4 linked regions of the Homo sapiens genome follow. The protein of the gene in region 2 interacts with the protein of the main gene of each other region in a pairwise test. Each region holds a gene or a part of one and is shown on either strand. Other genes may lie near its edges.

Region 1 (7,112 bases), on a different chromosome or scaffold from region 2:
GTGCGCCCAGTGACCACCTGGAGCCAGGCCTCCCTCCACCCCATGGAAGATCTCAGGCCAAGCCCCCACAAGTCCTCATTAGGCAGAGGCACATGGGACTGCCCCCAAGCCTGCGGGGACAGCTCCCCCAGACCCATCTTCTGCCTGGACAGACCGACTGGCCGGGGCCCCGCCTCTCCTGCCTCCCAGCTCCGCCCTCCCATGGCCTCACTCTGTCTTGGGCTCCGAGGAGCAGCCCCAGAAGGGGAACCCACAGCCTGGGAAGGATGTGTGAACAGGCACTGAGTCTGCTATGTGTGGGCACTGGGATGGAGGGGGAAGACCCGTGGGGCACACAGAGAAACAAACTGGCACCCGGGGCAGCAAGCGCAGGGACAGACGCAGCCAAAGGCCCAGGGACGCATAGGAGGCACGGAGGACCCAGCGGAGGGAGGGGGCAGGGCGCGTCAGGGGAGGCCGAGCCGGCCAGCTGGGGTGAGGGTGGGCAGCAGGTGGAGAGGCCAGAGATGGGCCAGGATCAGCAAGGCGGGGCTTTGATCGGGACCCGGCCCAGGTGAGGGCTCTGGCTGAAGTCTTCCTTCTCAAACCTGGAGGATCCGCCACCCTCCCCCATTCTCCAAAGCCCTGGCTCTTCCTGAGCGCGTGCGCGGCCCCTGTACCTGCAGCTTCCTGGATGAAGGCAGAGTTGCGTTTGAGGATGAGCAGGAAGAAGGAGGAGCCGTGGCTGCACAGATAGAGCAGGATCTTCAGCACCTGGGGAGTGGGGCGGTCAGCAGTGCTGGGCAGGCCGGACACGGGACACCCAGGGCAGGGCCCGGGGGCACCCCAAGGGCACAGAGCTGCCTGCCACCCTGGGCCGCTCGTCTGCTCCTCCATCCTCACCACCGTGGGCCGGGCCTCAGGCCTGACCCTTGACCACCCAGGGGCTCACCTTGAGCTTCCCGTGGCCGGAGCTGCTGTGCAGGCGGCTCAGGAGGTACTCCAGCAGGCACTGGCTGCTGCCCGGAGACTCGTGGGAGATTTCTGCGGCACGCTCGGGTTAGGGAAGGGCGAGATGATGAGGGCTGCGCCAGGCCGCAGGGAGACCAGGCCATGGGGCCTCTCAGTTCACGCTCCCTGGAGGCGCCTACTGGAGGCTCTGCCATCAGGAGCACCTGGGCTTCTAGGGTCCCCTGTGTCATCAGTATTGCAGCCTTCAGACCCCACCCATGCCTGGTTACAATAATAAAGGAGCCGTGCATCCCCCTAGGGACAGCAGAATCCCCAGGAACCCTTTGCACCACTCTGGGACCCTGCCATCCGCTCTTTCCACTACACGGGGACATCAAGGAAGGATACTAGCAATCTCTTCAAACAGGTAGCCCGGACACGGGACATCATCATCGGACGTCCCCTTCAGGAGAATCGGGAGCTGAAAGGGAACAAGAGCCCCTACCATGATGAGGTGCCATTTCCCACAGGGGTGAATCCGCAGCCCCCCAAAGGGGATGGAAACGACCCACCTCTCACTGTTGACATGGCCGGAGAGAGGACTGGGAAGGGATGAGAACTGTGCTACTGGCCACAGGGAGGCTGCAGCAGGGTCCTCTCTCAACAGTCAGGGATGAACAGCCTCGGAGAAGAGGCAAATCAATGGTGGTTCTCCACGGAGGAGCTGCGCCACTTGGGTTAAGAAGGGACACAGCCCCCAGCCTCCCTGCACTTACCAGCATGTAAGGCTATTTGAAGGTACCTCTCCTGTACCTACCTACTGACTAGCAAAGCCAAACAAGGCCCAGGCAAGCCCCTTTTCCACACAGGGGACTATGAATCGTTCCACCTCCCCAGAGGCCGGAATGGCAGAGTGACAGCCGCTCAGCGTGACTAGCTCCATCGCTCCCCGAGAACCGACTGATGTCGTGTGTTTTACGTTCGCTTAGCGCAGACGTACTTATTTGTTTCATGCTTACTTACTGGCACAAAGATGTACGGTTTATAGGGATGAAAACTGGAACCACCCATTCTTGCATTATTCAGTATCAGGACAGAATAGAGTTCAAGAGTATTTAACAGGACAAGCATGGGACCCACCGCGTGAGGTGCCGAAGCCTTTCGGTCGGAAGGGCCGAGATCTAGTGACAACATACGAAAACGTGGACCTGAAGTGTTTCCCGAGGCTGTGGACACGCATCACTGACACTGTTTGCCCACCACGCCCTAAGGGGAGCTGCTGAGGTTTGCAGGTGACAGCTGACAACTGCAGAACGCAGCACAGAACGACTATGTCGAAACCTTGCACTGAGAGCCTTGACCAACCCTAGCGTGGCTTCTGGCAGCCCAAGGTCGCGCCCTGGGACCACCCAGCCCCCTCTGAGGTCCAGCCCAGGAAAGCTCAGGGCTGACAAAAGAGGGCAGTTTGCTCAGGACGACACCTGGGAACTCGCCCCGGCCTCTACTTCTCAGAGGGTTTACTAAGAGGGGCTTACAATGGTGCGTCCTTCTCTGTCCCTTCGAGACGTCTGTGTTCTCTGCAACCCAGGGGTGCCTCTCCAGGACCGGAGTCCTCTGAAACGCCACCGTCAGGGAGGACGGCGGGCTGCCAGCCCACCTGGGCGCCAGCAGCACGGACACAGCGGCTCCACGTCCACCGGGTCCGCCGCTCCTTCCCTCCCGTCGGAGGCCACTGAATGCTGGCCGAGGCCTGTTCGTTCCCCCAGGGTCTGGCTGTGCCCATCGCCCTTGCGCTCGGCGGGTCCGGCTTGGAAGGCCCGGCTTGGAAGGCCCCGGGACGGCGCGGCGGGCGGGCAGCTCAGGGGCGTCGGCGCGGGCGAAGGGGCCAGGAGCAGCTACCCGGCGCGGAGACGCAAGGTCAATGGCTCCGGCCCGGGGCGAGTCCGGGGAATGCGGCGCTCGAGAGGAGCCGTGGGACCGGGGCCCGGGCGGACCGCCCTCACTCACCCGGTGTAGAAAGCTCAGGCGGTCCCGTAGCGGCGGCGCGGCAGCCATGATCCAGGTCCCCTCCCGGTCTGCCCCGCTTCCGCCAGGCCCGGGCCCTCCAATCACTGCGCGGGTCTGGGTCCGCCGGCCAATCCCTCACGGTAGGGCGGGCCCTGAGGTTGGCTTCGTAAACAATTGGAGCCTAGGCCAATCCGAAGTCCCAGAGCACAGACAGACTAGGACAAGAGCCAATTGCGGGGGCTCGAGGCCAGGCAAAGCCTGGCCAATTAAGAAGTTCAGGAAAGGTTATGGGCGGAAGCGCCGACCTATCAAGCTGTTTGACACCGGAAGAGGACGGACCTAAGATGGCGGCCTCCAGGGGGCTGGGAATAGCCGCTCATGTCGGCTAACGGAGCGGTGTGGGGCCGCGTGCGAAGCCGCCTCCGCGCCTTCCCCGAGCGGCTGGCCGCCTGCGGGGCCGAGGTGAGGAGCCGCGGGCGGGCCAGTGCTGCGGGGCAGGAGGAGCCGCGCGGGGAGGTGGCTGGGAGGGAGGACGGTGACGGGGTCAGGGGACCCCACGACCCACGCCCGTCCTTTCCGCAGGCCGCGGCGTACGGCAGGTGCGTGCAGGCCTCCACGGCCCCGGGCGGCCGCCTGAGTAAGGACTTCTGCGCGCGGGAGTTCGAGGCCCTGCGGAGCTGCTTCGCCGCTGCGGTAGGTGGGCGCGGGCCCCTTCCCCCCTTCCCAGCCCTTCCCCTCCAAGAGCCAGCGGGCCCCGGCTTTCCTTTGCTTTCCCGTTGGTTCAAGGTTTGAGCGCCTGCCGCGTGCTTTAGACGCCGGCTGACAAAATCACCGAGCCATCGACGAGCCCGCGAAACCTCGGCCGTCCTGGGCTTGTCCCTGCATGTTTGTAAAGCGGGACTGGCACCAACCTCAGAAAGGATGGGAGATGTGTGCAAAAAAGCGCCTTGTAAAACGCGTAAGCTTTCGTGTTAGCACTGCCGCCGGGGGGTGTCATGCCAGGATTGACCCAACACAGGACTCCCGGAAAGTGCCCAGCACCTTCCGGGTCTTCACCTCCCTGGCACTTGCAGCCCCTGTGCACCTGCAGTGGTGGATTCCTTCAGCACGTGTCCTGCGGGGAACCCCCAGCCACCCTCACAACTGGCACGATAGGGCTTCTTGCCCGTGGGGCTTTAAGTCATTCTGAGGCTGGTTCCCTAAGTGTCAGCCGCACCGGGTACCACCTCAGTGTATCTGGGTAGGCCTTGATGCCAGTGCTGACTCTGTTTACTGGGAGCTGTTAATCCGGAGATTTGGACCAGAGAAAGGGTATTTGAACAAGAGTTCCACGGCCTTCATCCCTACCCGGCCCCAGCAGCCTTGGATCCAGGGGTGGACAACTCATCAGAAGTTGCACTTTTTGCTGGGTGTGGTGGCGCGTGCCTGTAATCCTACCGCTTTGGGAGGCTGAGGTGGGTGGATTGCTTAGGCCTAGAAGTTTGAGACCAGCCTGGGCAACATATGGAGACCCCGTCTCTACAAAAAAAAAGAAAAAAAAAATTAGCCAGGCATGGTGGTGTAGTCCCAGTTACTTGGGAGGCTGAGGTGGGAAGATCACTTGAACCTGGGAGGTGGAGGTTGCAGTGAGCCGAGATCACGCTGCTGTACTCCAGCCTAGGCAACAAAGTGAGACTGCATCTCAAAAAAAAAAAAAGGGGGGGGGCTCCTGCTTTCCCTCTATGAGAGCTTGAGACCAAATGTGGCATCTCGTGGGGGCTCAGAGGAGGGGGCAGCAGTGAGTTCTGTGATAGTGTCATGAGGCCCTTGTCCCGTGGACAAGTGACCCAGAGAACCTGCCCATGGGGCCCCAGGCTCCAACCAGTCGAGCCCCCACCATATGCCAGCACCCAAGTTCTCTGTAAGGTATTTGGTAGAACACAACGTGTGGTGTGGTAGCTTGCTTTTGAGGCGTATCTAACTTGGAAGCAAGCCATTCAGACAAAACACTTTATCTTGCAGGCCAAGAAGACGCTGGAGGGAGGCTGTTAGGAGGGACTCTGAGCTTCACACCTGTCTGCTGCCATGGGTGCAGAGCCCTAGTCCTGATGGCCCCTGGTGGCACATATCGAATGCCTAGGGCAGAAAGGAAGTGGGAATGGCGAAGATGTGACATTCCTCGGTGTTAGATCCTGTTTTTTCTTAACAAGTTGAGGCGTGGGTAGAGCAGGAATTGGTTTTCCAGCATTGTGTCCGTAAACCTGAGTTAGAATAAGATGTAACGGAAGCCACGATAAAGACTCGGTCAAATCCTGCAGCCTGGGGCTTACTGTGTGCAGACTGCAACATGTGGGTCTTGGCCTCTCTGAGATGGAATGGGGCCCAGAGCCTTTCCCCCAAAGCTGGCAGGGCTGGGACTTGGGGACACCCTGCCTCAAGGTCCCCGTTTTAAAACACTCTCACTAAGGTATTTAATGTGAATCTGGTGAAGCCTGCAGACCTTGCTGTGGGTATACAGCACACACCAAAGACAAGGACGTCAGCACCACGAGGGGACACTCCATGGGGCAGGGTCCTCGCAGGTGGCTTTCCTGGACACGGGGCAGGGCGGAGGCTCTTCACAAAAGGGCCTGAGTCTCCGAGAGGGGCCTGCGTAGAGCACCAGCAGCCAGTGCCCCTCCTGTGTGGGGTTGGTCGCCCCCTCGGCAGCCCAGGTACTTCACCGATGGCGCCTGCCCTCTCGTTCCCCCTCCCTATCACATCACTTGACCTAAAACTAAGGTGAGAAGGGCCACATCCTGACTCTGCCCGGGCACTTGTTGATGGTGAGACCCCGGAGTCCATGGGGCCTGAGCGCCACCTGCAGGGCGTGGCGGGGACTGCTTTGAGAGCCCCCCTGCTCCGGGGTGCAGAGGCTGCACTTTCCTGGGGCTGCAGCCTGCGCCTGCCCCCAGGCCCGTGCTAGCGGCTGACCCCGTGGGCTGAGGTCTGTTCCTCCATGTTTCCTCCTCCAGATGCTGCCCCAGAATTAACCTGGTTTCCCCTAAGGGTCTGATCTGGGTGGTGGGTCTGCAGGAGCCAGGCCAGAGTGCTGGATTTTGTCCCAAGGGCCAGGATAGTGTCACATCTTGGGAACCACGGAAATCCAGACCAGACTCCTGGGGTCAAGCCACCGCAGTCCATCCCTGTGCATGCCAGACTCAGATGCCCTGCGCTGGCACAAACCACCCGACCCGCCTCCCCAGCGTGCAGGGCCGGCTGCCCCCCACCCCTGCCTTCCTCCTTCTTGTGCCCAGCACTCATCCATGAGCGAGCCTCAGTGTGCAGACGTCCTTTTCTTAGCCCTGTCACGCCCTCTCCGTTCTCTGGCAGCTCATTGGCAGAGCTTCCTGCATCTTCTCCCTCCAAATCCAGCCTCCCATCCCACCCACAGACCTGTCTTGCCAGCACTCCCCCTCGCTGTCCTTCACCCTGTGTGTGAGGTGGTGACAGACCTGCCACTTCCTGTGGCCCAGCGTGGCCCACACCTCCAAACTCAGCTCTCAGGCCTCCGGGGTACACCCTCTTTTCTGCCACCCCAAATTTCCTTGCAAACCTCCCACCTTTGCTCTGCCCTTCCTCCCTGAGTGACTGGATTTCAGCACCACATCGATTGACAGCTCAGGAAGCTGGGCGGGTGGGGGGGGGGGAGGCGGGGGGGAGGGGGAGGGGAGGTTGTGGGGGTTCTGCTGTTTTCGCACCGCAGGGACAGTGTGGAGCTCTAACTGCTTCAGGTGCCCTTGGGCCGTCCCTGCTGCCCTAACAAAGCACCTGAGACTGGGTGATTTACAAAGAACGGCCTGATTTTTCACAGCTCTGCAGGCTGCGAAGCCCGAGATCCAGGCATTGGTACTGGTGTCTGGGGAGGGCCTTTGTGCCGTGTCCTCACACTGCAGAAGGCGGAGGTGCAGCCTCTTTTATAAGGCTCTTAATCGTACGAGCGAGGAAGGAGCCCTCGGCCTAGTCACCTCTTGATACTGTCACTTAGGCAACTCCTGAATTTTGGAGGGGACACATCAAACCACAGCAAATGCCTTGGCTCTCAGGAGATACCCAAAGTTCTTTGAGGGCTCAGCTCCGCTCAATCCGTCCCTGGGCCAGCGTGCTGCGCAAGTCTGTTCCCGCGCAGAAGTACACACCGGCGACGGGACAGCGCT
Region 2 (7,388 bases):
AATTGAGCAGACCAGCTGATCCCAAAAGCTTGTTAATTTTTATGGTTTTAAAAGAAGCCATATCAGAAAAGAGAACTTGGAAGCTCAGAGAGGTCAAGCCCATGTCAGGGCCACACAGCAGGTAACAGATGCAGGCCCGCAGCCCTGGTTATCTAAGGATATGGGAATGGGAGAGAGAACAGGTGGCAAGGGGAGGTCTGGGAGAGAGAAGTGGCCCCAGGCCAGGAGCTCTGGAGAGAGTCAGAGCTCCTTTACCCACCGAGAAGGAGCTGAGCTTCACACCCACTGCCCGGTGCTTCCTGCCCAGGCTGGCAAGGTACTCCTCCAGTGAGGACAGGTCTTCCACATTGGTCACTGCAGCATCAATCACGAGCATCACCTGCCAAGGCCAAGGCAGCAGTGAAACAGAGAGGCCAGAGCAGCCCCATCTGCTCACAATCACAGCCCAAGGCATGAGGGTCCCAAAGCAAGAGAGGCCAGTAGGACCCTCAGTTCTCCAAGATCAGGGGTCAAAGGCAGCCTGTGTCTACTACATGTAGGGGGCACCCGATACGTGGTGGCCAAACTACTAATGTTATACCCATGAAGGAAGCCTCTCTCCTCTGAGAAATTCACATCTCTAAACACACCTACTGGAGAGTGTTGTCTGCTGGGACAAGGAGAAACTGAGGCCCTTTGAGAATCATGAGATTCTAAGAAAATCTCAGCCTGATTTTCATAGGCAGATAGTTCCCAATTACCAGGATCTGTGCTAACACAACCTATGGGAGCCAGAGGACAAAGGCAATGACACAGGCTGGGACCAGCTCTCTGAACGCAGGGTAGGGGAAGAGGCTGATTCTGATGTCCCAGACCAATCCAGCCCAGAGGGAAAGGAGCTGTACCCTGCTTGGGGGAACTGGAAGGGAGTAAGACTAGACCTGGGGCAGAAAGTCATTTTCTCCATTCTCCACCAGGGAGGTGCTCTGCTGGATCCCAGAGGTCACAGCAGCTCTGCCTCCCTCTCACCTTCCTGATGTGGTCCAGGAACTCAGGCGAGGAGAGACAGTCCTCTGGGCTGGAGAACTGGCGGCAGTTGTACTGGAAGAGGGGCAGCAGGTCAGGCTCCAGGGCAAACAGCCTGTGGGAGTGAGGCCCAGGTGTTAGCCCTGGGGTGTGAGCTCCTGCAAGCCCCAGCAAGCCTGGCTGTCCTGCAGTCAGCGGGCGGGGGTGCCAAGCCAGGTCTCAGCTGCAAACCACAGCTGACTCTCCCACCTGGCACTGCTCCCCCGCCAGCTTCGGTAGTGCCCTCCTCCTCATGCCTTCTACTGGCTCTGGGCAGCATCCTAGAAAGGGCAAATGTGTCCCAGGGCCTCTGGTAAGCAGGGGTCCCTCGGTGAATAGCTGAGGGGTGTGATTTGGGACAGGAAGAGGTCCCCAAACAGGAAACCTGGAGTTACGTTGTGTGGAGAGGAAAGCCCTTTCTCTCTCTCTCTCTCTCTCTCTCTCTCTCTCTCTCTCTCTCTCTCTCTCTCTCTCTCTTCTCTCTCTCTCTCTCTCTCTCTCTCTCTCTCTCTCTCTCTCTCTCTCTCTCTCTCCCTCTCCCTCTCCCCCCCCCCCCCCCCCCCCCCCCCCCCCTGCGCTGAGTACTTTCCGTGTGGTTAACTTTTAACTGTATTCCTCACTGTCCTAAGCAGTGGGTACAACTGTTATCCCAGTTTTATAGAGGAGAAAACAGAAGCCCGGGGAGGCTAGAACTCGCCTAAGGTCACACAGCTTGGATGTAGTGCAGCCACAGCGGGTGCCTGAGAAAAAAGTGAGCTGGGGGGAGTCCGGAGGCAGAAGCAGAGGCCCTCCTCGGCATTTGGGAGGTCTCACCGGGTAACTGAATGTTTTCCCCTTTTGTCTTGGGGGTGGTTTTGCGGAAGCCTGGGTAGAAGTTCTGGACTGTCCAAGGGTGCCAAGGATAGGTAACACCACGGTGAGGGAAGCAGTGCCCGGTTGGTGATAGCGGAAGGGTTACCAAAACTGCGAGCTGAGGTTGGAGACTGGCCTTCCCTTCCCACCCGGCCTGCACACCCCCCACCCCTCTCCCCTGCGGTGAGGCTCCCGCATCTGTCACCCCTTCCCCGGCTGCTCTCTGGCTCTTTCCTCGGAAAGGTTTGTCTTGTTGGTTGTCAGGGATCCACACACCTGGAGCCAGACCGCTCACACGCGGGCGCAGGAGCTCGCCCCACACATCTCCCTTCCCCGGCTCTCGGGGCACCCCAGTACCCTGATACCGGCAGCGGGGTGCACCCCTGCAGTCGCTACCTAAGGAAGACGCAGGAGGCACAAGGCGGGGTGGAGGCGCCGCGCAGGGACGGAGGTCCACCCGCCCAGATGTGGGGAGATCCGCGGGAGGGGATCCCGCCCGGCCCGGTGAGCCCCGCTGGGAGAGTGGTGTGCGGCGCTGGTTGGCAACAGGCGCCCACGGTCGAGAGAGAGGCAGAGGGGCTGTGCCACCCGTCGCCGCGCCCCGCTCCTCTGGCGCACATCTGGCAGGCGCCCCAGCGCCCCGGCAGCGGCCAGTTTTCCCTCCTTCGGGGCCGGTCCTGCCGCGTGACCCCTTTCCCGCCGAGGCAGCCTCCACCCGCATCCCCGGGCGCTCGTGTAGCCCTCACCTGGCAAACAGGACGGTGCCGTGCTCCAGCGGGCTGCGGCTCACTGCCCGCCAGCTCTGCCGGATCAGCTCGGGCTCCGGGCGCTCCATGCTGTCCCGGGGACGCGGAGCGCGGGGCTGGGACCCTCAGGGCTCGGGTGCCGTCACCGCACGTGCCGCGCCATCTCCTCCGCGACGCGGTCCCCTCCGCCCCTCGTACGCCCCCCGTGCCTCCGCCCGGCGGGGGCCGCAGCCGCTCCTTCCCTGGCGCGGGAGAGAAAAGGCGCGCGGCCAGTCGTAGGTGGAGACACCCCAGCTGTGCTTCCGGGGACCCCGCTTGGCCGCTGCGCCCTGCGCCCCGCAGCCGCCAGAGCCGCCCCACCCCGCGACGCCTGGGCTGGGCGCTTTAAAGCCGCCACGGCCCCCGCCCCCTCCAGGCCAGCAAGGCGCGCGCTCCCTCCGCCAGCCGCTATGGTGGCCTGGGAAAGGCCCGGCCTGCAGAACGTAACTGACATCGCGGAGGCTCTCTGGGCCTCAGTTTCTCCTCCCGAGCCCCGAGGGCACTGTGTTGAATTTGGTCGCCTCAGGTAGGCGCTGCATGCGCCCCCTCTCCACAGGCCCCTCAACTCACGCATTGCCAGAGGCATTTGAGTTTGCCACCCACCTGGCCTGCAGGTCAGGCCTGGGGAGGCGGCCTAGGGGCCTAGTTCTCGGTCTGACTAGGGCACCAGCACACGTTGGGGGCCACCAGGGCTTTCAGCCGTAGGGACAGGGCCAAGACCACAGCCATTCCCAGCCAGGCCTGGGTTTTTTTGAGACTCCATCTTTAGAAAGCCGTGAGATCCAGTTCTAATCCCAGCTCTGCTTGGCCAGGGTGGAATCTTGAGGGAGTTCAGCTCTAACATTCTACCGTTCCATGATTTAATTTTAATTTTAATTTTAATTTTTCACCTCTTCCCTCCCTGGGCCTTCCCCACTTCCATGATTTTTCATCTTTTTGTTTGTTTGTTTGAGACGGAGTCTCACTCTGTCGCCCAGGCTGGAGTGCAATAGCGTGATCTCGGCTCACTGCAAGCTCCGCCTCCCGGGTTCACGCCATTCTCCTGCCTCAGCCTCCCGAGTAGCTGGGACTACAGGCGCCCGCCACCACGCCAGGCTGATTTTTTGTATTTTGAGTAGAGACGGGGTTTCACCGTGTTAGACAGGATGGTCTCGATCTCCTGACCTCATGATCCGCCCACCTCGGCCTCCCAAAGTGCTGGGGATTACAGGCGTGAACCACTGCGCCCGGCCTTTTTTTTTTTTTTTTAACGGAAGTACTGTTTAATTTTTTCAATAGAAGTTCAGATAATAGAATCCATGCTCCCCACTCAGGGTGTGCAATTGGCCACCTGCCAATTACAACTAAACTTTTCTCTTTCAAGCAGAAAGTTCCTCAAGCCCCAGCCCAGTGCTGGTGGCCCAGGTTTGGGAGAGCAAGCCCGTTTTCACCTTTATTTCTCTCTCATTATTCCCTCAGGGGTCTCCGAGCCTATCTCCTCTGTCTGTCCACGCCTCTCTGGCCCTGTTTCCTCAGTTGTGCAGCAAAGGGGTTGGGTGGTGAGGTCTCTGGGACCTTTTAGTCCACCTCCTTTAGTTCCATGGGTAGAAGGTGGGTGTTCTTGAGCCCCTGGTTATGAACAGCTGGGGCTCCATGCCCAGCCCTGTGCTAGACATGGAGTGGCGAGTCCTGGTCTTTAAAATTTCTCCTTCTGGCCCTGAATCAGAACTGAGTGCCTCAGCAGAACTTTTCTTTCCTACTCCTAGCCATGCCCCAGGAAATCATCTAGCTGTTCTCCCTCTTCCAAGGACTCAGGAGTTTGTGGTAACCCCTATTCTATTTCCCATTTCCTCACAAATCTCTGGGCTGGAGCAGGAGAGCAAGGCTATAAGGCAGCCTGGAAAAGCTGGTGTCCTAGGGTCCAAGAGGTCTCCAAGCAAGAACACAAAGTGATTGGGGCTGAAGGAACAAGACGTGACTAAACTTCCAGCTTGGGGTCCCGTGGACCTGCAGCCAGGTGCAGCAGGTCACAGGGCAAGGACACGTGTCATTGGTGACCTTCACTATTCAGTGCCCAGATGCTCAGTGCTCTGTGCAGGCCACCTGGCTGGTCTCAGGTACCCCACTCTACCCAGCTCACGCTTCTTGCCAGCAATCTATACTTAGGACCCATCTTGCTTCCTCTCTCCTCTGGCCAGGGTCTGGAGTCTGATGAGGTAGTGGGAGTTAACGGCCCTAGCTAGTAAGTAGAGTCAGTACTCAAACCATGGCTTCACTCTTTGTCTTCCTAGAGCCAGGAGATATGTGCTAAGATAAGCCAAGGTAAGTGCACTCTATCCCTGCTCCCTTCAAGAAAGGCCTGAGAATCTGGATGGGCCTAAGCGATGAGAGTGATGTATTCCCATCAGTAGACCAAGGGTCCAAGCCCACATTTGAGGGGCTCAGTAAAAGTCACAGGAGTCTCCTCCCTGTGGGTCATCCGCCCAGGAGGTAAGAACCTAGAGGAGAATTCAAGTACTGTCCCAGAGCCAGTGCTGGTCATTGAGGTTCATGTATCATTAATAATACAGAGCTGGCATTTATGTCTAGACAGTGTTCCGGGCACCTTACTTCATTTCCTCTTTTCATCCTCACAATAACTACGAAGTAGGTGCTATTTATCATACCCTCGTTTTACAGCTGAGGAAATGGAGGCAAAGAGGTTAAGTAACTAGCCCAAGCTCACATAGGTAATAAGCGGTGGGGCCAGGATTTGACCTCAGGTCTCTCTGGCCCATCCTGTAGGCCTCCATGCCTCCCTTGCTTTAATGGGCTGTGGCCAAGAGCCCCAGCCATAATTCAGACCAAGCCATGGTCACTGGGTCTGGTTCAGCGGTGTGCTGGAGCCAGCTTTCATATGGCTTTCAAGAACCAACTGTATGCATCTCTTTCCAACTTCTCATTCAGTGACATCAAGTTGGTAGCTTAAAAAAGAACATGTTGGGAATATTTACACCATGGAAATTGGCAAATGCTATACACACCAGTTTTTCCTCCCAGAACACCTGTTGTTAAACATCTACCAGCACACACTGATCTGGGTGCACCTGGGGGAGCCAGGAAAACCTGGGCCCTAGATGAGCGGCTGCTGATGCATTAAGCAGAAGGCCCACGGGAAGGTGCTGCGTCAGGGACCTCGGGCTGAGTGCTCAGGCCTTCTCCCCAGGGTATCTAGGGCTGCAGCTGTTCTGGGAAGGTGCCTCTAGTCCCAGGACAAGACTAGAGAGGCAGAAAAACCCAAACTTGGCACTGAGTCCTGGCTCTACTATTTACTTGTTGTGGGACCTTAAGACAAGTCATTTAATCTCTCATGGGTAGAATGGGAACAAAAACATCATTGACTTCACTGGGCCTTTATGAGGATTAAATGTCAGAGATGTGTTGAGACTTTGTAAACTAAGCTGTGCCACTCAAGGAAGAGTGACTTGGCCCCTTCCTAAACTGCCTGTCGTAGGCATGTTCCACCTCCTGAAGATCCACATGCCCCTCTCTCCCCACCAGCCCCTACCAGAGGGTGGCTAGGCAGCCCAGAAGCCCCCCAGTTCCACAGCACAGTGCTACTCCCCTCCCCCATCCTCTGTCCAACACTCAGGTCAGCTCCTGCTGCCTTCAGCTCCTAAGCATCACTCCTGATAACAGGAGACACCTGTCAAGATGGGGACCTCTGTTAGGCAGAATGGCAAGTTGCTACAGCACTGGGATACTCGGCTGTCTGGGAAGGGGACAACTTCTTCTTGCACTCCTTTCTATGCCATGTGAACAGGTTAAAAGAGGACAAATCAGAGGTCCAGCTTCCTACTTATTTTGGAATCAGTTTAAATATACCAAAATGACGACCAACATTACTCAAGTAACTGTACACATGGGGAGATCCAAATGCCTCCTGGAGTAATCAGGCTCACCTGCCCAGCCCAGGTCTTCTGCTGGAATTAGATCAGCCTCAGACATGACACACGGGGTGGTTCCTGCACTCAAAACATTCTTCTCAGGGAGGCCTTTCTGGGAGCAGAGGGCAAGTCGGATTCAATTAAGTACAAGGACAACAAGGCATTCAAAACAAGTGTTATTTATTATAAAATCAGTGGCTTCTGATTAGAAGACTTTTTTTTTTTAAACCAAATAGGCTCAAGAAGCTGGCTGGAGGTTGAATTGGCTGACGAACATCTTCTTCCTCCACCAGCAGTTTGTGGGACACATCACGTTTCTGCCAAGTGCTACAGCTGAAGCCCATATTCATAGAAGCACCCTGACAGCCCTTCTCCAGCAACTTCCAGAAAACAGAACCTGAGCACTCAAAGCTGCATCAGCCCATGTGGCCTTGCTCCCAGAGAAGCATCTGCCAGTTTGGGCATGGAGGAACAGAAAGTGGGCAGGGAATTCTCCTTGGCTCCTTAGAAGGCAGTGGGAGCCCAGGGAAGCGTTCGGCCCCAGTGCAGCCTAATTGGGAGGGAGGGATGGGTAGAGGCTGGCTGGGCTTCTCCTTCCTCACCCTCATGCAAGGTGGCTGCCCCTCTGGCTCCTTCAGAGCTCTTCCCTTCCAAGTTCCTACTGAGAAATAAGAAGGCACAAAGGAAAATCAGCCACCTCCTGGAGGTCACTGTGGGCCACCTGCTTTGCTAAGAGCCAAGCACAGACCCCTGCATTCTCCCTGCAGGAGAGCCCACCCGGCTCAGAAGAAAGCAATTCCGC
Region 3 (7,023 bases), on a different chromosome or scaffold from region 2:
TACAAAAAATTAAAATTAAAAATTAAAAGGGATCTAAAAGATGATTTATTATCAAGGAAATGGAAATCCTTTACAATAAAAATCCAAACCCCAGCCAGGCACGGTGGCTCGCGCCTGTAATCCTAGCACTTTGGGAGGCCAAGGCAGGCAGATCACAAGGTCAGGAGATCGAGACCATCCTGGCTAACACGGTGAAACCCTGTCTCTACTAAAAATACCAAAAATTAGCCGGGCGTGATGGCGGGTGCCTGTAGTCCCAGCCACTCGAGAGACTGAGGAAGGAGAATCGCTTGAACCCGGGAGGCAGAGGTTGCAGTGAGCCGAGATCACGCCACTACACTCCAGCCTGGGAGACTCCATTTCAAAAAAAAAAAAAAAAATCCAAATCCCTAGACAATAGTCCAAACAATAATAAATTTGAGGAAACTCCACTATAAATAAATAATTTGAACACACTCCTGAAATTTTTATTTGTATTAAAAAATCTGGTCTATGGCTCATATCGCTTGCTATTCTTTCCAAAATATTAAAGTAACTAGCACAAGGCAGGTACTTAATTTTTTTTTTTTTTTTTTGGCCGGGGGGTATGGAGTCTCGCTCTGTCGCCCAGGCTGGAGTGCAATGGCATGATCTTGGCTCACTGCAACCTCCACCTCCCGGGTTCAAGCGATTCTCCAGCCTCAGCCTCCTGGGTAGCTGCAATCACAGGCATGTACCACCATGCCCAGCTAATTTTTGTATTTTTAGTAGAGACGGGGTTTCACCATGTTGGTCAGGCTGGTCTCGAACTCCTGACCTTGTGATCCGCCCACCTCACCCTCCCAAAGTGCTGGATTACAGGCGTGAGCCACCGCACCCGACACAAGCCAGGTACTTATATGCATAATCTAATTCAATCCTGTACCCAGAAGGTAGACATTATTTTTCATGTTTTATAAACCAAGAAAATGAGTGTCAGATTAAATAATTTGCTCAACATACTACAGCTGGTAAGTGGAACCCAAGCTTGATCCCAGTTTATATTCTTTCCAACCTATCATACTGCCTATCAAAGAAAGCATTAGTAGCAGGTTCTCTTGACATTGACGTGAATGCTTTTTTTTTTTTTTTGAGACGGAGTTGCACTCTGTCACCCAGGCTGGAGTGCAATGGCACGATCTCGGCTCACCTCAACTCCACCTCCTGGGTTCAAGTGATTCTCCTGCCTCAGCCTCCAGAGTAGCTGGGATTACAGGCATGCGCCACCATGCCCGGCTAATTTTGTATTTTTAGTAGAGACGGGGTTTCTCCATGTTGGTCAGGCTGGTCTCGAACTCCCAACCTCAGGTGATCCGCCTGCCTTGGCCTCCCAAAGTGCTGGGATTACATGTGTGAGCCACAGCACCTGGCCGACTCTATGCTTTCAAAATATGCACTTGCTTTACATTTTTTCCGTTTAAAATTAAGTTATTAAAACCTTTTGATTTTAAGGCTGGATGTGGAACACATGAGGCCAAGAGTTCAAGACCAGCCTGGCCAACATGGCAAAACCCCATCTCTACTAAAAATACAAAAATTAGCTGGGTATGGTGGTGCATGCCTGTAGTCCCAGCTACTCTGGAGGCTGAGGCACAAGAATGGCTTGGGCCTGAGAGGCGGAGGTTGCAGTGAGCTGACATTGTGCCACCACACTCCAGCCTGAGCGACAGAGCAAGACTGTCTCCAAAAAAAAAATTATTTTATTTAAATCTTGAGAGTTTTCTAATAAAATTTATTTTAATCTGGTCTTCAAAAATAACAGTTAAAGCTGAGCATGGTGTTGGCTCACATGTGTAATCCCAGGACTCTGGGGAGCTGAGGCATGCAGATCACTTGAGCCCAGGAGTTCAACAGCCTGGGTAACATAGCGAAACACCTTCTTTACTAAAAATAGAAAAAAATTAGCATGATGGTACAGGCCTATAGTCCCAGCTACCCAGAAGGCTGAGGTAGGAGGATCACCTGAGCCTGGAGGGAAGTCCAGGCTGCAGTGAGCTGTTATCATGCCACTGTATTCTAGCCTGGGCAACAAGAGGGGACCCTGCCTCAAAAATAATATTTAAAATTTGCCTTATCATATGGTTTGCTGCTTTTACTACGGCTATGCTTTTAGCCATCTGAAAGCTTCACGCTTTTCTTCCTGGTCCTTAATACACAAATAATATCTCTCCTTAGCAATATCATTCTTTTGTAGATACCTGTTGGACTGGAATGTGTCCCTAGAGAGTTTTACTTTTTGAATGCATGTCCTTTCTGGTCCCAAACTATATACTGGCCTGTCTGTCCAATTTGTCATGGCATTTTGAATTTTTCTTGTCATCAGAGTACACACAACTCACTAAAAATATTAAAAACTCCATGTGTAGTTGAACTTATTGTCCTAAGGGCACAAAGTAGTGAAAAAGTGCAGGGGCTTCAGAGGCAGATCTGGGTCCCAAGCCTCTCACTGATCCTGCAAAGATCACTTAACTTCTCTGAGCCTCAGTTTCCTCAGATATAAAATAGGAGCAGTGTCATCTGCTCACAGGGTTATGGTAAGGATTAAATGAGATATATACACATATCCTTTATATATATATATACACACACACACACACACACATATAAATGTCCTATGTCTGTGTGTGTGTATATACATATGTGTGTGTGTGTGTATACATACATATATATAGTACCCAATAACATATTGGCTGCTCAATAAATACTAAATAGCTGTGACAATGGAAAACATTCTGTGCAAAATAACTGTAGTCCTTCATGACATCAAGTTAAAAAAGCAGAGAGTATGTGCCAAACATTCCCAATCTACTGACCCAGTTAATATCAATTAGAATTTTAACAAGCATGCTTCTGAGGCCATCATCTAATAGGGCACCTGCCACACTTACCCATGTGAAAAGCAACTCGGTCCCCTTTATGGGTCTTAATCTACCACACTAAGTAACAGGTAACTTCCCTATGGATAGTGACCCAGAGGCAAATTGTTCATTCATCATCAATGGAGTATGTTCTTTTTTCAATTATGTGGTAACGAAAATTACTTATTACCGACTTCTTTACTCAGCTATTTGTACTCTGTATATTTACTGCTGCATAGTGGAAGCACTTAAGCAAAGGACCAACGTTCTAATGTCTGTGACAAATACAATCTGGAGGCCAGGCGCAGTGGCTCACAACCTGTAATCCCAGCACTTTGGGAGGCCGAGACAGGCGGATCACGAGGTCAGGAGATCGAGACCATCCTGGCTAAGATGGCAAAACCCCATCTCTACTAAAAATACGAAAAGATTAGCCAGGCATGGTGGCGAGCATCTGTAGTCCCAGCTACTTGGGAGGCTGAGGCAGGAGAATGGCATGAAGCCGGGAGGTGGAGCTTGCGGTGAGCAGAGATGGTGCCACTGCACTCCAGCCTGGGCAACAGAGCAAGACTCCGTCTCAAAAAAAAAAAAAGTCTTACAACCCTAAAAAGTTAAATTAATAAATGTATAAACTTAACCCAGTTATGCTGGAGGTTGCAATTTTTGTTAAAAATCAGACCTTGGCGATGACCTTGAGCAGCGGGACATAAATAATTCCCGCAAGCTTAGTGTTCCAATAATGGAACACTAGGCATAAATGGGTTAATTTTCAGATGAAGTCTGCTGAACCCAAAAATATGAAAATGATTTCCCAAGGATTGTAAAAATAACTGCTAAGGAGATGCTGCTAACTTGATCACAAAAGCAAGATGAGTAGAAGGCTTTCTTGCACTGTGCGTGTCTCTTGTATGTGTAAAAGTGTGTATGCATGTCGACTGCATGTCGAGTGTGCAGTGCAGAGATAAGAGAGGAAATGGGATAAAGTTCAGTCTATAGCATACTATGCTATTAGACTGCATTAAACTGCTACAAAGTTTCTTTACTCCAAAAAGTAGACAGGTTAACTGTTGGAAACTCTGTAATTATTAGATAAAATTAACAGTACTTTACAATTATATGTATGTCACTTTACAGTTTACAAAGTTATTAAGTAGATATTCAATTTGATGCCCTGAAATAAATTTAACTTCTTTGCCCTCCCTTCTCCCCTCCATCAAGGACAGAGTAAGGAACACTTAATCAGGAAAGGCAATATAATTGCATCAATCTGTACAGAACCACAAAGAATAAAGGGTAGGAAGGTAGGACCTTGAAGAGGGCCACAGGGACTTCAAGGAAGGAGGAAACCAGAATGTTAAACATGAGGGAAGCCCAGGGTTCACAGGAGAGTTAGGCACCATACGGGGCAGGTTGTGTTCGCCACATAAAAGGAGGGGCACACAGCATAAGTTTCACATTCTAAAATAATATGAAAAGACCATAACTGAAGAGCTGAATTTGGAATTTCTGGTTTTTCACAATACAAGTAGATGATGACCACCAACCATGGTTTCTGAATGAACTGGGTTCAAAACATATCTGGTTGCAACAGAGGGCTTCCTTGGACCCTAACATTTGAAATTAAACAGAGGTAATTTGAGGAGCTGCGATTTTACACAGTGGTGGCATCCTGGGGAGCTTCTATTCCATCAGTCAATTTTAATATCTCACAATCGTGGAAAAGGAGTTTCCGAGCAGGGACGAGCAATATCGATGGGAAGCCGATACTTGGGCCATCTCTTGGAGATTCCTGCTGTAAGGACGGCAAGTGTTTCTCCAGAGAAAGCACTTGCCTGGGTATGACTCAGGGCCGGGCAGGAATTCACACTATGAATCCGGGTGGTGGGAAGGCGGAGAAGTATGCCTACAAAGATTAAAGAGCCAGGAATGGAAAACACACTAAAAACCGTCCCAGTGGGCAGCCTGCCTCCCCACAAATAAGAAGACCTTGAATCCTGAGCATAATCAGGGAGACAAAGCAATGCCCTGGATGCCACCAGCATAGACAAAGCCAACGGAAAAAAAAAAAAGAAAAGAAAATGCATGATTCAGTATTTACACACACAAAAAGAAGAGTGCAGAAGCAAGCAAGAAACTAAAGAAAAAGGAGGCTGGGTGCGGTGGCTCATGCCTGTAATTCCAGCACTTTGGGAGGCCAAGGAAGGTGGATCACTTGAGGTCAAGAGTTCGAGATCAGCCTGACCAGCATGGTGAAACCCCGTCTCTACTAAAAATACAAAATTAGGCGGGCGTGGTGGCCCATGCCTGTAATCCCAGCTACTTGGGAGGCTGAGGCAGGAGAATCGCTTGAACCTGGAAGGCAGAGGTTGTAGTGAGTTGAGATTGCACCACTGCACTCCAGCCTGGGCAACAAGAGTGAAACTCCATCTAAAAATAAAATAAAATAAAAAATATAATATAATATAAAAAATAAACTAAAGAAAAAGGAACAATGCTCACACCAAGGGAGCTGCCGACAAACCCCACTGATGCTTCCCAGCAGCACTACAGCTTGGCTAATCCCAGCTTCCCACTGTACCTTTCAAAATGACAAGGGAGAGACATGAGTTAAGCATTGACCCCACCTCAGCATGGGGTAAACATCTGAGATTTCTGCTGCCCTGGGTGTGGTTACGTGGGATTACCATTCTGGGTGACTCACTGAAATGTACTCACAGTGAGTCATGCCTTCAAATGACATCTCAAGTTCTGCCTGCTTGGAGATACATCTGGGGATCTTAAGGGGTGAGGGACTACTCAACAAGAAGGAATTTAGCCTGTCTTTTTAAATAAACGGCATTTCTTTTTCCTAGAAAAATGGGAAATTCTTCAATTCTCTAATACAGGGACACTGAGATAACAAAGAGGAAAGTGTCTGGTTGGAGGTTGGGAGGCCACCCTGGGGTCTCTCCTACAAAAATGGAAAAGAAAAGAACGGTGAGAAATCAAGCAAAGCACAAGAAAGTTTCCCTTTGCTAAAAGGGAAAAGATGCCCCACAATGGCCATAAACATGAACTGGGGATAAGGAGGAGAATGTCTCTTCTTGGCACCCCCAAACAAACGTTAATTACCCCTCCCGGAGAAGACGATGTGAAAGATAAGGATTCAGAGGTTCTAAGTCCTGGAATCTAAGCCACACTCTACAGACCTTCTCAGAGACCTTATACTTAGGAAGAAACAAGAAAGTAAAGAAATTCAAATAGATAAACCGAATAATAAGGAAGTCCTTACCCAGTGAGACCACGTTCCCATAATTCTCTAACATCACTTCTCTGTAGAGGTCCCTCTGAACAGGGTCCAGGTATCCCCATTCCTCTCGAGTAAGGTGCACAGCCACATCCTCGAATGTCACAAACTCCTGAAATAACACATCCTGGCTGCTCTGAGGAATGAGAACACTGTAGCACCATGGCCAGAGAATGAAGATCATAGAGAGGGTATCCACTGTGTACTTACGTTGAGGAGGAGGGAGAACAGATTAGAACCTACGGAATAAAGCCCATAACCCTTAAACATCTAATAAGCACCCATCACACAACCATGGACAAAGAGAAAACAGAGTTTGCTCATGGCACTGGGGAGATGGGAAGTTGGTTTATGTGAAGTCCAGGTCTCCGAAGAGGATCAATTCCCAAACTGGAGTCTGCTATTGAAAAAAATTCCAGGCAAGGTCTACAGATGGGATGAGAGAGAGGCCACACTCCATCAGTAGCAATAGTCCCTGAGGAAAAGCAGAGGGTTCCTCAGCTCACCTGGTACCTGGCTGTCAAGAGCGCAGCTGCCTGGTCTCCTGGGCTTCCCTCACGGGGAAGAGCAGGCACCTGAGGAACAGGTGGAGCTGAGGGAGGAGAAAGGAGTGAAGAGTGAGAGCAGCCCTTTCCCAGGGCTCCCTTTCAGAGGAGGCCTCTCCAGCCCAAGGGGTGTCAGCAGGACCCTCCTCAATACTCTAGTAAAACCAATGAACATTTTTCAGGTATTGGGTGTGTCTACTCTGCTTCGTCTCAGTACTTGCATGCCTTATGCGTGTTTTGACCTGTGATACAGGATTTTCTTAGGAAAGCTTGTATTTCACTTTATCTTCATCACATGACAGTCCTCTTACAGAAG
Region 4 (7,023 bases), on a different chromosome or scaffold from region 2:
TGTCGCAGGAATCCCTGCCAGTAAAGTTTCCAAATGGAGCACAGACGAGGTATATTTTATTTTCTTTGCTGCCCGACACCAGATACAGGATTACTGGCTTAAGAGGTGTGGAACATTGAGCGTAGGTAGCGTTTAGTCTTTTTTTTTCTGAAAGAGAAGAAATTATTGTGAGAGAAATAACTAATGCATATGGGTTAAATGTTTTGAACCTGTAGCATTTAGATTCTGACTGTGTTTTTTAACTGGGAATTTTGATATTGCTTTTGACAGGTGTCAGAATTTATACAGAGCTTACCTGGGTGTGAAGAACATGGAAAGGTATTTAAAGATGAAGTAAGTATTCCACTAAATTGCAATATGTTACTTAATGGGATCAAAGCACTGAAATGCAGTGGAAGGTGAAATGTGTGGAATTGGCAGAGTCAAAAAGAGATGGGGTGTGTTGAAATTGACAAATTGATGTATACTAACAGGCAGTATGAATCAGTTGTATAAAAATGTCTTTGTATAAGATGAGATGCATAAGAATGTTTGTGAGTACCATTTTATGATACCCCACAGCAGTAACACTAGGCTCCTTATAAAAAGAAAACCCACAGAACTTAATAGCATGCATTTATATAGTTTATAGCACAGAGGAAGCCAAAGAAAGAAAGAAGCAACATTTTCTCTTTTTAATAAAGTGAAATTAGTTTCCATTATTTTATTTTCCAGTGTCATTCTAACAACACCATGATTGACTCCATTTGAGGTTTATAATAAGTAATATTAGCATTATGTCTAAAAAAATCCCTTAAGTCATATACATTCCTCAATAATGTTTATAATAAGATATTTATCACAGTCCACTTTTGGAAGATTATTTTATTAGTTGTTTTCAACTCCCTCTCCAAAACTTCAATATAAGGGGTGATTAAGAATGATATCACTTACAGTGAGCACTAGAATAAAAAGGAATCTGGTTTCTAACTTTTAATTCTGTAAGCGTACAGCAGGAGACCCTTTTCAGTAGAGACCTTTAAAAATAAGCCACTTGCCTGTCATCTCCTCCAAGCAAAGCAGTCAATTACCCCTCTGATTTTGGCTGTGTCTACTCCTGCCAGAAGGCAGAAAGTAGACTGAGTAATCTCAGAAGGTGCTCTCCAACATCTGCTGTCTACAGTTACACGCATACACAACTTGTTTGCCCCTATGTGTAAAGCTCAACTGTTAAGAACAGCACACTTTCCATTTCATTGCAGGAGTATAGACACAGCTAACAATCCAGCCACCAGTTGTCAGTGTTGTTATACTGTTAGGTATAATTTATGCGTTAGATGAAAGCTTGTTAAAATGCACAAGGATCTGATTTCCAACATCCTTTTTCTGATTTATGTTCTTATTGTGCAAAGGTTTTATTTTCTCTCTGTTTGATCTTTAATTGGCAGTTATTCAGATTTTCTTTCCCTAAGTCCTGAGTGTCTTCACTGATACTCTCAATTCATTTTCTGTTTTTTCCTTTTTTTTTTTTTTTTTTTTAAATCGAGATGGAGTCTTGCTCTTCTCTCCTGGGCTAGAGTGCTCACTGCAACCTCCGCCTCCTGGCAGAGGCGATTCTCCTGCCTCAGCCACCTGAGTAGCTGGGATTACAGGTGCCCGCCACCACGCTCGGCTAATTTTTTTTGTATTTTTAGTAGAGACTTGGTTTCACCGTGTTGGCCAGGCTGGTCTCGAACTCCTGACCTCAGGTGATCTGCCCACCTCGGCCTCCCAAAGTGCTGAGATTACAGACGTGAGCCACCGTGCCCAGCCTGAATTCATTCTGTATCGCTGAGCAGACTTAGAGCCACATAGGGAGCTGTTGGTCTGTCTTGGAAAATGTCATGTTGTCATTACCTTTGAAAATAATAAAGCATTTTTGAAAATAAATTTATAATGCATCTCTTTTATAACTTCTGTTTTTTTATTCTGTTGTTATCTAGATAATCCCTATAGGTTTGCTCTATTATTCAGTTTGAGTAAGATTCAAGTTTAAATTCAAAATGAGATGCTATTTTTTGAGTAATTTTTTTTATTCATGGCAGATTGTCTTTGGAGATGTTCCTCAGTTACCAAATATGCTCAAAGCTAGATCCTTTTCTGGAGGAGTGAGATAGTTAATATTCTCTGTCGATATGAATTATTCATTCATTTACTCCTTCATTCATTCATCTTGTGCACATTTGTTAAATTCCGACCATGAGTATGTTACTTTGTGTCATGCTCTTGTGAGAAGGATGATTCGAAAATAATGAAACCTAGTCCTTGTTCTCAAGTGTCTCACAAGGTCAGTGGGTTTGGGTTTTGAGTCCTACAAGTAAACCATAGTACAAATCTAACCGAAGTCTTATAAATCATCTTTAAAAGGCAAAGGACAAGTATTCAGATAGGCTGTTGTTGGAAATTATCCTTGACTTCTCTCTTACACATGCCACATCTCATCTGTTGAAAATCCTATTGGGTGTATCTTTGAAACATGTAAAACCCTTATCACCCTACTGCCACCACCACCCTGGTCTGCGCCACCATCCTCTCCCACTTGGATTAGTGCAGTAACCTCCAAACTCATTTTCCTGCTTCTGTTTTTGCTCCTCTACAGTCTATTCCCAGCACAGCCAAGGTTACCCTGCTGAAACATAAGTCAAACCATGTCACTCCTCTGTTCAGGTCCTTCCAATAGCTTCATCTCTCAATCAGAGTAAAAGCAGAAGTCCTTACAAGGGCCTGCAGTCTGACACCTCATTACCTCTCTTGCCCCCTGGCTTTTTGTTTACACTGCCCCTCACGAGTCTACGTGCTGGCCTCCTTGCTCTTCCTCTGATTGTCCAGGCTTGCTCCCGCTCCTCCTTCTGCACAGAACACTCTTCCTCCAGATGTTCATGTGGCTCACTTCTTCTGCTCAGATGCCAGCTTGCCAATTAGTCCTGCCCTGACTTTCTTACTTGAAATTGCCTCTTGTCACCACACATGCATCCCTGCTCCTGCTGCCCATTCATCTTCCTAGTCAGCTCTGTTTAATCATAGCACAAATCACCTTTTTTTTTTGAGACAGAGCCTCACTCTGTCGCCCAGGCTGGAGTGTAGTGGCACAATATTAGCTCACTGCAACCTCTGCCTCCCAGGTTCAAGCTATTCTCATGCTTCAGCCTCCCAAGTAGCTGGGACTGCAGGTGCGTGCCACCACACCCGGCTAATTTTTGTATTTTTAGTAGAGATGTGGTTTCACCATATTGGCCACACTGGTCTTGAACTCCTGACCTCAAGTGATCCACTGACTTCAGCCTCCCAAAGTGCTGCAATTACACTCATGAGCCGCTGCTCCTGGCCAACATGAGTCACTTTCTAACTTACTAATTAATTGGCTTACTTAGTATGTTTATTGGCTTATGGTCTGTCTACCACTTCTAGAATGTAAATTCCACAAAAAGTTTTTTGCTTGCTTGGTTTTATTTGTTTTATTCCCTGCTATATGTCTAAGCCCAAGAAGAGTGTTTGGAATATAATAGACATTCAGTATATTTTTGTTGAGTGAATACATTCATGCCTTTACACTCTGAGAAAGACTCACTCAGACAGAGCATGTCACTGTGGTTTCGAGTTAAGGCATTGGAAAAGAACAAATAGTGAATAGTGGAAAGGGCAGTGAAATGGAAGGCCAGAGCTCCTGAATTCCAAATCCCTCTCCTTTGTTTTAGGCCATTAGCAAGACACCTAATGTCTGGAATAATGGCATTGTATATGCATTGCAGAAGCTAACCGAAAAAAAAGTAAGCCTTGTAATACATTGCAGTGGTCACTGTTGTTCTTAGGATGTACTTTCCTGAATTAAGTTGACTTCCTTCCAATCAAGACTTGTTTGTATGGCCACATGTCAGAGCAACCTGTATGTAATAAAGAGTTTGGAAGTAGCCTCAAGATTTTTTTTCTTTCTAGTGTATGTAACCTTATAAATAACAACCTACCAAAATGTATCCTTACTGTCCCACTTTTAACTTCAAATCCCAGCCACTAAGTTCTCTGGATGTTTTTTTTTTTCATCAGTTACCTGTTGTGTTATACTCTTACATAGTTTCAGAAGGAGACTTGCTGTCTGCGCCAGGCCTTCAGTAGGGCCAAGGTTGTAATAAACCAGTCAGCCTTTGTAGTGGGCTCCTTGGGAATGTCAGTTGACATTTTCATTAATGACTTAGAAGACTTCTATAAGGCTGTCCATTGTACTAAGGTCTGCCTTGGTTGAGCGAAGTGTTAATAGATCTGCCTTTCTTCCTGACCTTGCTTTATCAGAGGACTGTCATAGCACAAGCAAATGAGAACAGACCAATGTTTCCAGAAAACAGGAGAACATTTCTCATACCTGCCGCTTAACGGTGCTACACTTGGAGATTAACACTGGAACGTCTTTCCTTCTAGTTTACAACAGCAGGATGTCTTTTTACTGAAATTAGCACACTTTTTCCACATAATTGTTACTTGAAGAAGTTGTGTAAGATGACTCCAGTTCTTACTGATGAAGCATTTAGGCAGTCTATATTTACAGGTCTTTCATTTTTAAAGGAGAGAGGAAAATCTTAAGAAGTAGCAATTTAATTATATCAGCCTTGTTTAGAGAACTGTTTGCAGAATTTAGAGTTGTCTTAGTTTGCTAGGGCCACCATAACAATGCCAACCACAAACGGGTGGCTTAAATGGCAGAAATGCATCGTCTCACAGTTCTAGAAGCTGAGAATCTGAAGAAGGCTAGAAGTCAGGGGGTTGGCAGGGTTGCTTCCTCCCGAGGGCTGTGAGGAAAGAATCTGTCCTGGGCCTCTCTCCTTGACTTGTAGATGTGACTTGTAGATGGTGGTCTCTCTTTGGGTCTTTACGTTGCCTTCCCTCTATATGTGTCTCTTTCTCCAGATCTCTCCTTTTTATGAGGATACCAGTCATAATTGGATTAGGCACCCACCCTACTCCAGTGTGACCTCATCTTAACCAGTTACCTCTGCACTGACCCTATTTCCAAATAAAAGTCACATTCTGAGGTACTGGGAGTCAGGACATCAATATACGAATTTTTGTGACAGGGACACCATTCAACCCATAACGGAGTGCGTTGCTGTCAAGGTTTCTGATGTTCTAAGGCAGAGAACAAAAGTGTGTTTTACTTTTTGTACAAGGTGGGAAAACTGAAAGGGAAACTTTTTTTTTTTAAGGTGATAGAAGAGCTGAAAGTCATAATGAAAGACTGTTTCTTTGCTCTGCCCAGTAAGCCAGACATCATTTTCATAGTATTTTATCTTTTAACCTAAAAGATGTGTTGTACCTTTGAACTTCTAGAGAATAGTAGCCTATTTTTCAGAAGCATAGACTTTTGTCTTAGAAGATGTCCAGAGAGAGGAAGGGTCTTTCTCATAGTTACCCTACCTGCGTATTAGAAGAACCACCTTAAAGTCAGTGACTCGTAACACCAGCCTCACATTCACTGTTTGATTGCCCCGTTAGTAAATGCTTTTCTTCTGTGTGTAAAGACTTAACTGTGGCCACACTAGAGATAAGTGTTATCTTTCTGATTTTCTTTTCTTCATGGTGGAAGGCTAATTCTGGAAAAAAAAAAAATGTTGCATGTAGCTGATATGTTTGCCTGAGTTATTTTATGTCCACAAACATTCATGTACCTGTTATCTCTTCTAATTTTAAAACCTGCCATGATAAAAACTAGACTTTGGGCATCCTGGATTTTTCCATATTCTTCTTAACTCTACAACTAATTCAGAGTAATCACAGGAAGATATGGGCACCTTCTGTTTTCCTTTGGCTGGTTTTTCAGGTGAATTAGTTTACTTTGTTCCCAGTCCACTTTGGGATGTGTCATTGTGGATAAGAAAGGTCCATATATCAAGAAATGTCATTGCACACGTGAACTTCTCTGTGCTTTTTTAGCATTGCTATGTAGAAGACAGCTGGTAATTTAACCTTGAATATTTTCTACAACACTGCATCTTGTTAATCCACATTCTGTTGTTTTTTTCCCCCATTTTAGCAAATTGATGGAGAAGCATTTCTACTTATGACTCAAACAGACATTGTTAAAATTATGAGCATTAAACTGGGCCCTGCTCTCAAAATTTTCAATTCCATCCTGATGTTCAAAGCTGCAGAGAAGAATTCTCACAATGAACTTTGAAGATGGTGAATTCTGAATACCATCAGCATTCTGCTTTAAAGCTCATGTTTTATTCAAAGCACAAGGACGGTTATAACTCCTAAGTGAGAAGTCTCCAAAACTCAAAAGAGCAACACTATCGGATTATTTATATTACTCAAGAGACAATATATATGAATTCTTATGAAAGTGCTTGAGCTTTTAACCAGGTACTGTCTAACAACAGTCATCTTTTGGTTCTGTTCACTGAGCTAAATTTATCTTTGTAAATCTTTTTGAGTCTGGGGGGTGGGGGGAAGGGGGGCTTCATTAATTATTTATGGTAATGGGGGGCAGAGTAAGAACTTTTGGCATTTTGTAAACATTGTTGAATTCTCTTTCATGTACACTGTTTCTTTTTCAATACTTTCAGAAACCTTTTTATATAATCAAATTTCAATTTAAACCAAATTAGTCGAAACCTGGCTAAGTTTAGCCAGTAGGACTGTTATCTGTATTGTTAATTTTGTGCCATATTTTGAATTGCAACATTATGCTAAGTATAACTTTGCAAGTCATGATATTGCCTAACTGCTTGTCATAATTGTCAGGGCTGAATAGTTGTAAGAATGACTTTTCTTTGAATCAGTATTTTTCCTTTTGCACGCATTATGAAATGTTAAACAAATTACTTTTCACCAGCATCTTTACTATAATTACCAAAAACATGTATATAAAAGAATGAAATTGAAAAATAAAATATATAAACATAAATAAATTAGGTAGTGTATTTTGAGTGGCATCAGTCTCACTCATCTTGGTGCCCCGGTGTTTACAAGAGCCAGATGGTGTCAGAGGAGTACGCAGTTGTATGCAGTTATGGT

What was found.
Region 1: the proteins of NGB (region 2) and TEPSIN interact in binary tests that used the Homo sapiens proteins (3 or more experiments, as listed by UniProt).
Region 3: the proteins of NGB (region 2) and ZNF655 interact in binary tests that used the Homo sapiens proteins (3 or more experiments, as listed by UniProt).
Region 4: the proteins of NGB (region 2) and L3MBTL3 interact in binary tests that used the Homo sapiens proteins (3 or more experiments, as listed by UniProt).

The regions. Positions count from the first base shown.
Region 1 is NC_000017.11:81,236,049-81,243,160, forward strand, and holds the start of TEPSIN (AP-4 complex accessory subunit tepsin), read right to left. Parts: upstream 3,008-7,112; 5' UTR 2,986-3,007; coding exon 2,938-2,985; coding exon of another isoform or gene 2,466-2,937; exon of another isoform or gene 2,112-2,465; coding exon of another isoform or gene 1,954-2,111; intron 1,613-1,953; exon of another isoform or gene 1,439-1,612; coding exon of another isoform or gene 1,412-1,438; coding exon 1,339-1,411; intron 1,030-1,338; coding exon of another isoform or gene 1,024-1,029; coding exon 932-1,023; intron 754-931; coding exon 660-753; intron 1-659. Other genes in the region: NDUFAF8 (NADH dehydrogenase [ubiquinone] 1 alpha subcomplex assembly factor 8), read left to right, coding at 3,316-3,399, 3,520-3,634, 4,939-5,105. UniProt on the Homo sapiens protein: Associates with the adapter-like complex 4 (AP-4) and may therefore play a role in vesicular trafficking of proteins at the trans-Golgi network.
Region 2 is NC_000014.9:77,268,207-77,275,594, forward strand, and holds the start of NGB (neuroglobin), read right to left. Parts: upstream 3,001-7,388; 5' UTR 2,732-3,000; coding exon 2,643-2,731; intron 1,121-2,642; coding exon 1,009-1,120; intron 380-1,008; coding exon 260-379; intron 1-259. UniProt on the Homo sapiens protein: Monomeric globin with a bis-histidyl six-coordinate heme-iron atom through which it can bind dioxygen, carbon monoxide and nitric oxide.
Region 3 is NC_000007.14:99,561,619-99,568,641, reverse strand, and holds part of ZNF655 (zinc finger protein 655), read right to left. Parts: intron 6,755-7,023; coding exon of another isoform or gene 6,669-6,754; exon of another isoform or gene 6,347-6,668; coding exon of another isoform or gene 6,148-6,346; intron 4,780-6,147; coding exon of another isoform or gene 4,583-4,779; exon of another isoform or gene 3,937-4,582; intron 1-3,936. UniProt on the Homo sapiens protein: Probable transcription factor.
Region 4 is NC_000006.12:130,133,573-130,140,595, forward strand, and holds part of L3MBTL3 (lethal(3)malignant brain tumor-like protein 3), read left to right. Parts: coding exon 1-49; intron 50-270; coding exon 271-333; intron 334-6,037; coding exon 6,038-6,181; 3' UTR 6,182-7,023. UniProt on the Homo sapiens protein: Is a negative regulator of Notch target genes expression, required for RBPJ-mediated transcriptional repression. It recruits KDM1A to Notch-responsive elements and promotes KDM1A-mediated H3K4me demethylation.